2 separate regions of the Homo sapiens genome follow, and region 2 is linked to region 1. The links come from fine-mapping of genetic effects on gene expression. A gene starts in region 1. The other region holds a variant in brackets. All regions are shown on one strand. Distances are from middle to middle. Region 1 holds the start of CHST10 (carbohydrate sulfotransferase 10). Region 2 has its middle 42 kb from the start of LONRF2.

Region 1 (5,382 bases):
AAAGTTACAAGATCAACTTACTTAATACAACTTGGTTTATACTTAGGAAGGAAATAGTGAACCATTTTGATGATTCAAATATATTTGGCAGAATGGGTCTCTTACAAAGGCAGGTTATATTTGGATTTCTTGGTAAATGAATATTCTAAATGTACCAAAACCACTAGCTGTTTAAAAGACTCTTCCATGTAACTTAGTGTGAAAAATGAAACATTTTTTGTAGCAAAAATAATCAAATCCAATTATGCCTGTTTCGTATGTTTGAAATAGTTATAGGATTCCTATACAAGATGATCAATTCTTCCAATGCAAAATGTTCTCTGGATTTTCGTACTCCTTACACCTTTAGCACCTGGAAAATTTTAGCCAAATGCCATATCATAAAAAACCAGAAACAAGCCAAAGTCATGGAATTAGATCATGGATTTAGGAGATCTACCAAAATAAACATACAACTCATTTAACATACAATAAAGCCCAAGCTGACTGGGACACATGCAGCACGGTCTCTCTCTGCCTCCCTTTACTCTAAGAACTCAATGCTAAAATTAAAAGCAATTTCCTATTATGTTGATTGAAAGATTAAGCTTTATATACAGTCATTCATCACTTAACAATAGGGATACCTTCTGAGAAATGTATCGTTAGGCGATGTTCTTCTGCAAACATCAGAGCGTTCTTACATAAACCTAGATAGTACAGCTAACCACACACCTAGGCTATATGGTACAGCTGACCACACACCTAGGCTATATGGAATCATCTATTGCTCCCGGGCTACTAACTTGTACTGCTGTTACTGTACTGAATACTGTAAGCATCTGTAATACAATGGTAAGTATTTGTGTATCTAAAATTAGAAAAGGTAGAGTAAAAATAAGGTAGTATAGTCTTATGGGACCACTGTTGTATATGTGGTCCATCATTGTTAGAAACATCATGTACGGCATTTGATGGTCCTCACATCCAGGTTATCCAGAAGTGTATGAAAAGAAAATGAACTCCTGGGTTTCTGCAATCTCTAAGGTCCTGCAACCACCTCTCTCCCCTGTTTCTATTCCTGGCTCTCTCTCACCTTTTTATTGTATGAACTCCTCAAACACTGAAAAATGATCCGAATATAACTGCAAGTTGCCTGTGATGTTTACAAATTCTTTCCTTTCTTTGTTCAGTTTTGCAAACACTCCAATTTTCATTTCAGCGAAGAAGAGAATTTTCTGCTCAGGTATTTCTTTGAGATTCTATTCTTCAGGGTCAAGAGCAATTCTGAATTCTGAATTCCAATTCTGAGCCAAGATGGACTAAGCTCTTAATTATAATGGGGAGGGAAGGGAAAAGACCACTTCTCTCTTTGTGTCTTTTCATTTTAACCCAGTCACTGAAAAGAGTGAAGGAGGAGGTGGTTGGTTATCAGAGAGCCAGAGCTAAACTGAGCTGCCTAATTTTAACAGCGTCTGAGACATTTCTCACTCTGGCACTCTAAGCAATGCAATAACCCAACTCCTCATGGCCCAAAGCCCCAGACTCTGGTTTTCAGACAAAACAACAACAACAACAACAACAACAAAAACCCACCGTTATGACAGTCCTGCCGCTGAGCTAACCAGAACCTGGCTGCACTACTTTCCATTCACTGCCCAACCCTTTCCTGCCTTGCAGACTTGGAAAGCAAAAATGACATTTTGGAAAACCTGGTTCACCTTCCCAGCCAGAAGTGCAGAACTGCATGCCTCAACCTCCAACTTCGGACAGGCCTCCTGACAGCGAAGATCAGAGGCTCAGGGCACCCCGGGGCCCCTCAGGCAGGGAACGTGCATTCCCACCCCTGACTCCCCTCGCACCGAAGCTGCACATGCTCCTTCTTCCCTGCCTTCCTCTGCATGCTCCTTGGACCCAAGCTGAACCCTTTCTTCCTCTCTCCATCTACAATTACAAACGCAAATTCTCAGCCAAGGATGAAAGAAGTAAATTGTAGGCTCGCACAATATCAATAATTCCGCGGGTCACAGCATCCCGCACAAGGACGCCTTCTTATTGCATAATTAACGCGAGGAAGGCTCTTCCCGCTACTCCCGCGAACTAGGGAGGTCTTCAAGTCGCCAAAACACACCGGGATGTGGCTCGCCAGGACAAAACCCGCGGGTTCCCCGGTTTTTCCGTGCGCCCCGCGGCGGGGAGAGGGGCCCAGGCGCTGAAACCCACCCGCCTGCGCGTCCCCGAGCTCACCCTACTGGAGCGGCGCTCGTCCGGGTCCTTAGGCTCCTCCCCTGGCCCTGGGGGCGCCGCGCGGGTCGGGCTTCGCCGGGCCTGTGGGCGAAGCGCGCGGGGTCCTGGGAGCTCGGGAGGCCCGCCCCACCTTGCCCCGAGGCCTCCGCGCCGCGGCCCGTCGGGTCCCGGGATGTGGCGGCGGCGGCAGCGGAAGTAAGGAAGACGCCCGGCGCGCTAGACCGGCTTTGGGGGCCAGAACGCCGGCACCGCCTCACGCGGCCCCCTCGCGCCTATCCGGCCGTGCGCGCCGCCTGCCCGCGCGCGTCCCCGCCGCCGTCCCCGGCCGTGCGCGTTCCAGCGGGTCGCGGGGAGTGGGGAGGGGCGCGGCCGCGGGACCCCAGGCCCGGATCCCGAGTCTCCCTTTCTGCCGCTGCAAAAGCGTTCTTTCTGACCGAGACCTGCGGCCGGAACAAGTCCCGCTGGGCCTCCATCCAGAAAACAGGTTCGCTTTTTGAGAAAGAAAAAAAATCCCAAACTTGGAAAAAGGCAAAAAACCAAACCAAAACAACAACAAAGTCACACACACACACAAAACCACCTTGGAAAAATACAAAAAATAGATAAGTAAATTTCTTAAATCCCCAACTTGGAAAAAGGCCACTTGCTTGCGTTAAGGGTAACTTCTAGCATTTTCTAATAAGCCTACTTAGTAAAAGGGGGACGTTCTATTCTTTAAAGAACCCCCTTGGCTGTCCGGGTTGGGGATGTAACTGTTGTCTAGGTACAGTGGATTAACGAAGGACAATGATAACGGCCTGACCAGTTTACAGACCTGAAGAATTGTAACTTCTTAACCTGCAGAAATGGATAAGGCCTGAGTCAACCTCAAAGGTATTGGGATTTTATTGCCCCAAAGAAGATAAACTAGTTTTATTTTTATACAACCTACATGTTTGTTAACTACCCGACTATATCTGTGTCTATTTAGCAAACAAGTAAAATAGATACGTGTATGTATACACACACACACACACACACACACAATTTTTCAAAGCTTTCAAGGAACAAGCGTTTTTGTTTTTGTTTTTTTTCTTTTTTATTGGTTCCCTCCTTAATGAGTTAATAATATTGAGGGAGCTGGCTGTTTGAGTATTTCACTTCTAGCCCCATTACTAATCATGGTTTAAAGGTTCTGTCCCTCATGCAGAAGACGTTTACTGAGCCCTTTTTTGGGGCCCTGTGGTTGAGATGAGACATTGGGTTTCCCTTTGAGGATTTGAATCGATACACGTGCACGGCAGAAAAGAAGTAAGTAAATGTGAAGCTTGGATGTGATGCAGCATATTATGCAGGATTTAAGGATCAAGGCTCTGGGAATCAGACCACGTGGATTCAGAGCCTTAGTCACTGCATATGACTGTTGACCTTGTCACACTCTCATCTCTCTGTGTCCCAGTCTTCTCATCTACAGAATGTGGTACTAGGCCGGGCGTGGTGGCTCACGCCTGTAATCCCAACATTTTGAGAGGCGGAGGTAGGTGGATCACCTGAGGTCGGGAGTTCGAGACCAGCATGACCAACATGGAGAAACCCTGTCTCTAATAAAACTACAAAAAAAATTAGCCAGGAGTGGGGGCACGTGCCTGTAATCCCAGCTGCTCGGGAGACTGAGGCAGGAGAATTGCTTGAACCCAGGAGGCGGAGGTTGCGGTGAGTCGAGATCTCGCCACTGCACTCCAGCCTGGGCAACAAGAGTGAAACTCCTTCAAAAAAAAAAAAAAAAGTGTGGTACTAAAGAATATTGTAGAGGATGCATTTAAAATACAAAGCACAGTCATCCCGCAGTAGTAAACACTGCAACAAACACACACTATTGTCACTGTTATTACTGCATTCCCAAGATACTGTTCAAAACTTTAAAAGATGGAGTTTGTTCTAGAGGCTTACACATTGACAACTAAGGTAACTGAGGTTTTTTGGTTTTTTTTGTTGGAGTTTTTCAAAATAGTTCCTCTTTTTTTCCTATAAATGAATGTCTAGGAAAATATTAGTATTTAGTCTTTTTTTTTTTTTTGAGACGGAATCTCGCTCTGTCGCCCAGGTTGGAGTGCAGTGGTGCCATCCCAGCTCACTGCAACCTCTGCCTCCTGGGTTCAAGTGATTCTCCTGTCTCAGTCTCTCAAGTAGCTGGAATTACAGGTGCGTGCCACCACACCCGGCTAATTTTTGTATTTTTAGTAGAGACGGGGTTTCACCATGTTAGCCAGGCTGGTCTCAAACTCCTGACCTCAAGTTATCCACCCGCCTCAGCCTCCCAAAGTGCTGGGATTACACGTGTGAGCCAAATATTTAGTCTTTGTAGCAGGAGGATTGTTTCTAAAATAGCAGTTCGCAAAGAGTGATCTCCAAAAAGTGGATCTTTAGGAGTCTCCAAGATCCTTTCAGAGGATCTGCAATGACAAAACTGTTTTCATAGTTGAACTGGGACATTATTTGTCCTCTTTACAATGTAGACATTTGCTCTGATTGTGCAAAAGTAAGCACAAATCCCAGCAGTGGGACAACACCAAATCAGTAGTAACTGCATCCTTCACCACCATGCACTTGCAGTAAAAACAAACACAAAGTGTCACTGAAGAATGTCCCCCGTGAAGCAGTCATGTCCCTCATGACAGGGTGGGAAATGCACAGAAACAATCCTGCTGCATCCCAAGGATGATGGTTGCTGAAGGCCGTGCCATTGTGCAATGGCCTGCAATGCACAAGCTGCAGCTCTTTTTTATGGAACGCCAGTTTTACTTGAAAGCAGAACTGACAGACAAACTGCAGTTACCCAGATTTGGGCATTTGGCAGACATTTCCTCCAAAATGAATGACATGGGCCTGTCACTTCAAGAAAAACAAATGATAGTGTTTGTTGTCTGTGATAACATTCAAGCTTTCAAGTGAAAAATCAGACTTTTGCAAAACCTGTATCCATCACTGTAAGTTTGACAGCTTCCCAATATTTAAAGATTTTTCTGATGAGATCAGAAGTAGTACTAACAACTAGTTGTAAAAAAATATTGTATAGTGATCAACCAGTTGTAGTGTAATAAGAAATATGTATTTGGCCTTTGACCCTGGTTCCTGACTGATACAGTTTGGCTGTGTCCCCACCTAAATCTCAGTTGT
Region 2 (5,306 bases), 54 kb before region 1:
TTGGGAGGCCAAAGTGGGCAGATCACCTGAGGTCAGGAGTTCGAGACCAGCCTGGCCAACTTGGTGAAATCCCATCTCTACTAAAAATACAAAAAATTAGTTGGGTGTGGTGTCACGTGCCTGTAGTCCCAGCTACTCCAGAGGCCAAGGCAAGAGAATTGCTTAAACCTGGGAGGTGGAGGTTGCAGTGAGCCAAGATCATGCCACCGTACTACAGCCTGGGCAACAGAGTGAGATCCGTCTCAATAATAATAATAATAATAATAATAATTACCTCAAATGTAAATGGTCTAAGTAAACCAAAAGACAGAGATATTGGGGAAACCAGCCCCCCGATATTCAACGTGGGTCCTTTTCTATTTTCCCTAAGTGTCGGCCAATCTGAGAAATAAAGGGAAAGAGTACAAAAGAGAAATTTTAAAGCTGGGTGTTCAGGGGAGACATCACATATCGGCAGGTTCCGTGATGCCCCTCAAGCTGCAAAACCAGCAAGTTATTATTAGTGATTTTCAAAAGGGGAGGGAGTGTACAAATAGGGTGTGGGTCACAGAGATCACCTGCTTCACAAGGTAATAAAATATCCCAAGGCAAATGGAGGCAGGGCGAGATCACAGGAGCGGGGTGAAATTAAAATTGCTAATGAAGTTTTGGGCATGCATTGTCATTGATAACATTTTATCAGGAGACAGGGTTTGAGAGCAGACAACCAGTCTGACCAAAATTTATTAGGCGGGAATTTCCTCGTCCTAATAGGCCTGGGAGTGCTACGGGAGACTGGGGCTTATTTCATCCCTTATCTACAACTGTAAAAGACAGGCGTTCCCAGAGCAGCCATTTTAGAGACCTCCCTCTAGGAACGCATTCTCCTCAGGGATGTTCCTTGCTAAGAAAAATAATTCAGCAATATTTCTTCTATTTGCTTTTGAAAGAAGAGAAATATGGCTCTGTTTTGCCCAGCCCACAGGCAGCCAGACCTAATGGTTATCTCCCTTGTTCCCTGAACATCGCTGTTATCCTGTTCTTTTTTCAAGGTGCCCAGATTTCAAATTGTTTAAACAATTTGTGCAGTTAACGCAATCATCACAGGGTCCTGAGGCGACATTCATCCTCAGTTTACGAAGATGACGGGATTAAGAGATTAAAGACTGGCATAGGAAACCACAAGAGTATTGATTGGGGAAGTGATAAATGTCCATGAAATCTTCACAATTTATGTTCTTCTGCCATGGCTTCAGCTGGCCCCTCCTTTTGGGGTCCCTGACTTCCTGCAACATCTCTCCCTTTCTTTTTATATAAATGTGCCATGGCGATGAAGGCTTGTTCGTTCTCTCGATTTTGATGCAAGATTCTTTGACTGGTCTGGCACACTAAAAACAAGCCAATTAAACAGAGAAACATAATTCCAAAATTTACTACAGTGGAGCCCCCAATAGACTTAATCCAAGTTGTGGGGTTTAGTCCAGAAAGATTTTCTGCTGCCTGATCTAATGCCTCAGCTCCAGGCACAATGGATAAGTGAGCTTGAGAGGCTGCAAAAATTTGTTTCTTTAATTCAGTTATGTCCAATGATAAATTATCTTCCCTACCCAGAAGGTGTCCTTTGACCATTTCCCATGAAGGATCAGTCTCATTATAGGAATACGGGGTGATACAGAAATCCGAAGTATTCCAATCGCACTGCATTTGCACGCGATGTTCGAGACTCACCACCCTATCTCCAAGCCAAATAACAGACTGTCTTAAATCATTAATTTGATTAGCCAATTTTTGATCAATGCCTTGTTGAGAATTCCACATTTAGGTGGAATTGGCTTGCCAATCATTAACAAAATGAGCCATTTGAATAGAGTGATGTAACGCCATTCCGGCAGTGGTGGCCATTGCAGTGACTGTAATTAGGCCCATGATCACAGAGATTAAAGTGAAAACAAATCTCTTAGATCTTTTTAGAATTTGCTGTAACACTTCATTAATTAAATGTATTGAGGGGGAGGATTCCCAAGCTCTGGGCAAAGTTACTGGAATCCAGATTCCTTCTCGAGCTCGAACCAACATTACACTTTTTCTGGAGTCAAAATGGGAGTTAATACAAGTGTATAAATGACAATTAATGCATTGGATAGTTTGATTGTTCATCAAAATTTTGATATTTCTTGCTAACAGCATGTAAGGAGGCTTAACACAACTCTGTATGGGAACAGTCAGGTTGGAGGTAAGTAAAGCAGAATGTCTGGATCTACGCTGATACTGAGAGAGGGGGACGGTAGTGGAGACAACAGACAGAATAGTTTCCCCT[A/G]CCCATACTCACAGTCCAGACATGGCAATAGCCAATTTTCAAAGTTCTGGGTGTTCTGGGCTCAGAATGGGGAGTATCATACGAGGCCTCAGTCGGGGGGTAATGCCTTTATCTTCCCATTTTAAGGGAAAGAATGAGCTGAACCTCCTATGCAAAGTAGAATGATGATTCTCATTCTCCCAATAAGAAATAAAATAAGTAGCCTCCAGGCATTCCCTTCCACCAGAGGAGCAATTGTTTTTTAAATAGGCCTTTGGTGTCCAGTCTATTACTAAACCATATGAGTCATTTTTTAATATTACTGCATGTGAGATAACACAGTCTTCCCAAATTAAACTTTTAGATGGGCCCTCAAAATTTTTAGGGCATGGTTTTCCTGCAGGTTTATATTGAAAGTATGGGGTATCTCCAATTACTCCCCCTTTCATTTGTTTTAAAGGAGAAAGGGAGAGGCCAGAGACCAAATGTCCCGGTTCCTCTGTAGCTGATCTCTCTGGAAGATAAGCAGCCCAGATTTGAGTTTCTAGATGGATACAATCAGGTGCATGTCCGAGGCACAGAGGAGGATATTTATAACCCATGGTAACATTAAATGCAGTGCCTTCTTCTCCTGGTTGAGCAGGGCAATGGTCATCTATAGCTCCAGGCATCCACACACTATTATTAGTGTAGATTTCTGCAGGAGCATCTATCCAGGTAAGAGGTCGAATAAGTGGAGGAAAAGGCACATAAGAATAATTATGTGTAGCAGGTAAATCAGTGTGAGAGGAAACTGGTGAGACAGAAAGTATAAGGAGGAGAATCATTAAATAAAACCTACTGTAAGCGAGATTCAGTGCTGAAGGAGGAAGAGAACAGAGGGATGTTATTTTCAGGCTAATAGAAATAGTGAGATTTTTAGGTTTGTAAGGAGAAAAAGAAAGGTAATCAGGAGAAGTGGGATTAGTTAGATGGGTCTCCATTGCCATTAGGGAGGGTTGAATCAGACCCATTGTGATTTGGTGTGCCTGCTTCTGAGGAGTCGGCACAGATCTCACCACGTCTGAGGGCGGTCTCTGACACAGACGTCTTTTCCCTGTGGTTTTCATTGTCAGTATTCACCCGAAGCTTGAGTCTCCTGGTGGGTACCCAGACAGGGGATTGATGATCTCCTGGTGAAATACAAGCATATCCTCTTCCCCACGTTATAATTGTGCCAGGTTCCCAAGTATTACTTTGGGAGTTTTTCCATAACACTGGCTTGCCTTCGTTTAGGGAGAATTTTTTGCCTGTATAATGGCGTTTGGCTGCAGTTAGATTATTATTCTTAGGGACATTTAAAAAATTTAAAGTAAACAATGCCAAATGTAATTGGGAGTGGGGGGTAGTTAAATTATGTTTTTGTTGGTCAGACTATTTGGACAATTGGGCTTTTAAAGTGTGATTGGCCCGTTCCACCACAGCCTGTCCCTGAGGATTGTAAGGGATTCCAGTAATATGGGAAATTCCCCACTGTTGCATAAATAAATCAAAAGCCTTACTAACACATCCAGGGGCGTTGTCTGTCTTAATTTGATATGAAAGCCCCATAACTGCAAAGCAAGAATACAGATGTTTTGTAACATGGGCCGTGCCTTCCCCTGTTTGGCAAGTAGCCCAGTTAAAACCTGAGAAGGTGTCTACAGAAACATGCACATATGACAGTCTGCCAAAGGAGCTCACATGAGTCACAACCATTTGCCATAAAGCATTAGGAATTAGGCCTCTGGGATTAACGCCAGGTTCCTGGTTTAGAAGTACAAAGACTTGACACTGAAGGCAGCTGTGAACAATAAACTTAGCCTGTTTCCAGGTAAGAGCAAATTTATCTTTTAATCCAGCAGCATTGACATGAGTGAGATTATGGAACTCCTGAGCTTCTTGGGTTGCAAAAGAGACCAAACAGTCAACTTTATGGTTACTGGCAGACATGGGTCCTGGTAAACCGGTCCCTCCATTCGGGGTCCCTGACTTCCTACAACACAGAAACTAACCAAATATGTATTAAAAAAAACTAATTATCTGCTGTTTAAAATTCAGTGACATTAGGCAGGTTGGCTGAGGCAGAAGAATCACTTCAAACCCGGAGGTGGAAGTTGCAGTGAGCTGAGACCATGCCACTGCACTCCAGCCTGGGCAACAGAGCGAGATTCCATCTCAAAAAAATAAATACATAAAAAAAATGATACAGAAAGATATACCATGCAAACATGAATTTTAAAATTAAAAGTCTAATAGCTAAAATTGTTAAAAATTTAAATTTATTGTGATATCTATTTCATTCCTGACATTAAGTTAAAATTATTAAAGTGCATTTATTTATTTATTTATTTATTTATTTATTTATTTTTTGAGACGGAGTCTCGCTCTGTCACCCTGGCTGTAGTGATCTCTGCTCACTGCAAGCTCCGCCTCTCGGGTTCATGCCATTCTCCTGCCTCAGCCTTCCAAGTAGCTGGGACTTCAGGCGCCCACCACCACGCCCAGCCAACATCTAAGGCCAGGCATGGTGGCTCACACCTGTAATCCCAGCACTTTGGGAGGCTGAGACAAGTGGATCGCCTGAGCTCAGGAGATTGAGACCAGCCTGACCAACATGGTGAAACCCTGTCTCTACTAAAAACACAAAAATTAGCCAGGCATCATGGTGGACACCTGTAACCCCAGCTATTTGGGAGGCTGAGGCAGGAGAGTCTCTTGAACCTGGAAGGCAGAGGTTGCAGGGAGGCGGAGGTTGCAGGGAGCTGAGGTTGCGCCAGTGTACTCCAGCCTGGGTGACAGAGTCAGACTCCATCTCAAAAAAAAAAAGTTTTTTAAAAAGTAGGCTATATTAATATCTGATCAAGTAGAAGAAGAGCAAAAATATTCCAAAGAAAAAAGACAAAAATAAAGATGAGAGAAAAATAAAATTGAAAATAAGACACTAATAGAGAAAATCAATGAAACAAAAAGCTTTGAAAAAAATTAATATTAATAAAACTTTAGCAAGACT

The links. PIP is the estimated chance that this variant, and not a neighbour inherited with it, causes the effect.
Region 2: its variant is the best candidate, but not a certain one, in a credible set for the expression of CHST10 in whole blood (INTERVAL, PIP 0.53).

The regions. Positions count from the first base shown.
Region 1 is chr2:100,415,148-100,420,529 of GRCh38, forward strand. CHST10 (carbohydrate sulfotransferase 10) reads right to left here and starts at 2,521. Exons shown (of 7, transcript NM_004854.5): 1 at 2,227-2,521. RefSeq lists silencers at 2,017-2,166, 2,177-2,626.
Region 2 is chr2:100,361,675-100,366,980 of GRCh38, forward strand. No RefSeq gene overlaps it. Among named protein-coding and RNA genes, the nearest start is that of LONRF2, 42 kb to the left of the region's middle. The variant A/G (reference allele first, on the strand shown) is at 2,297.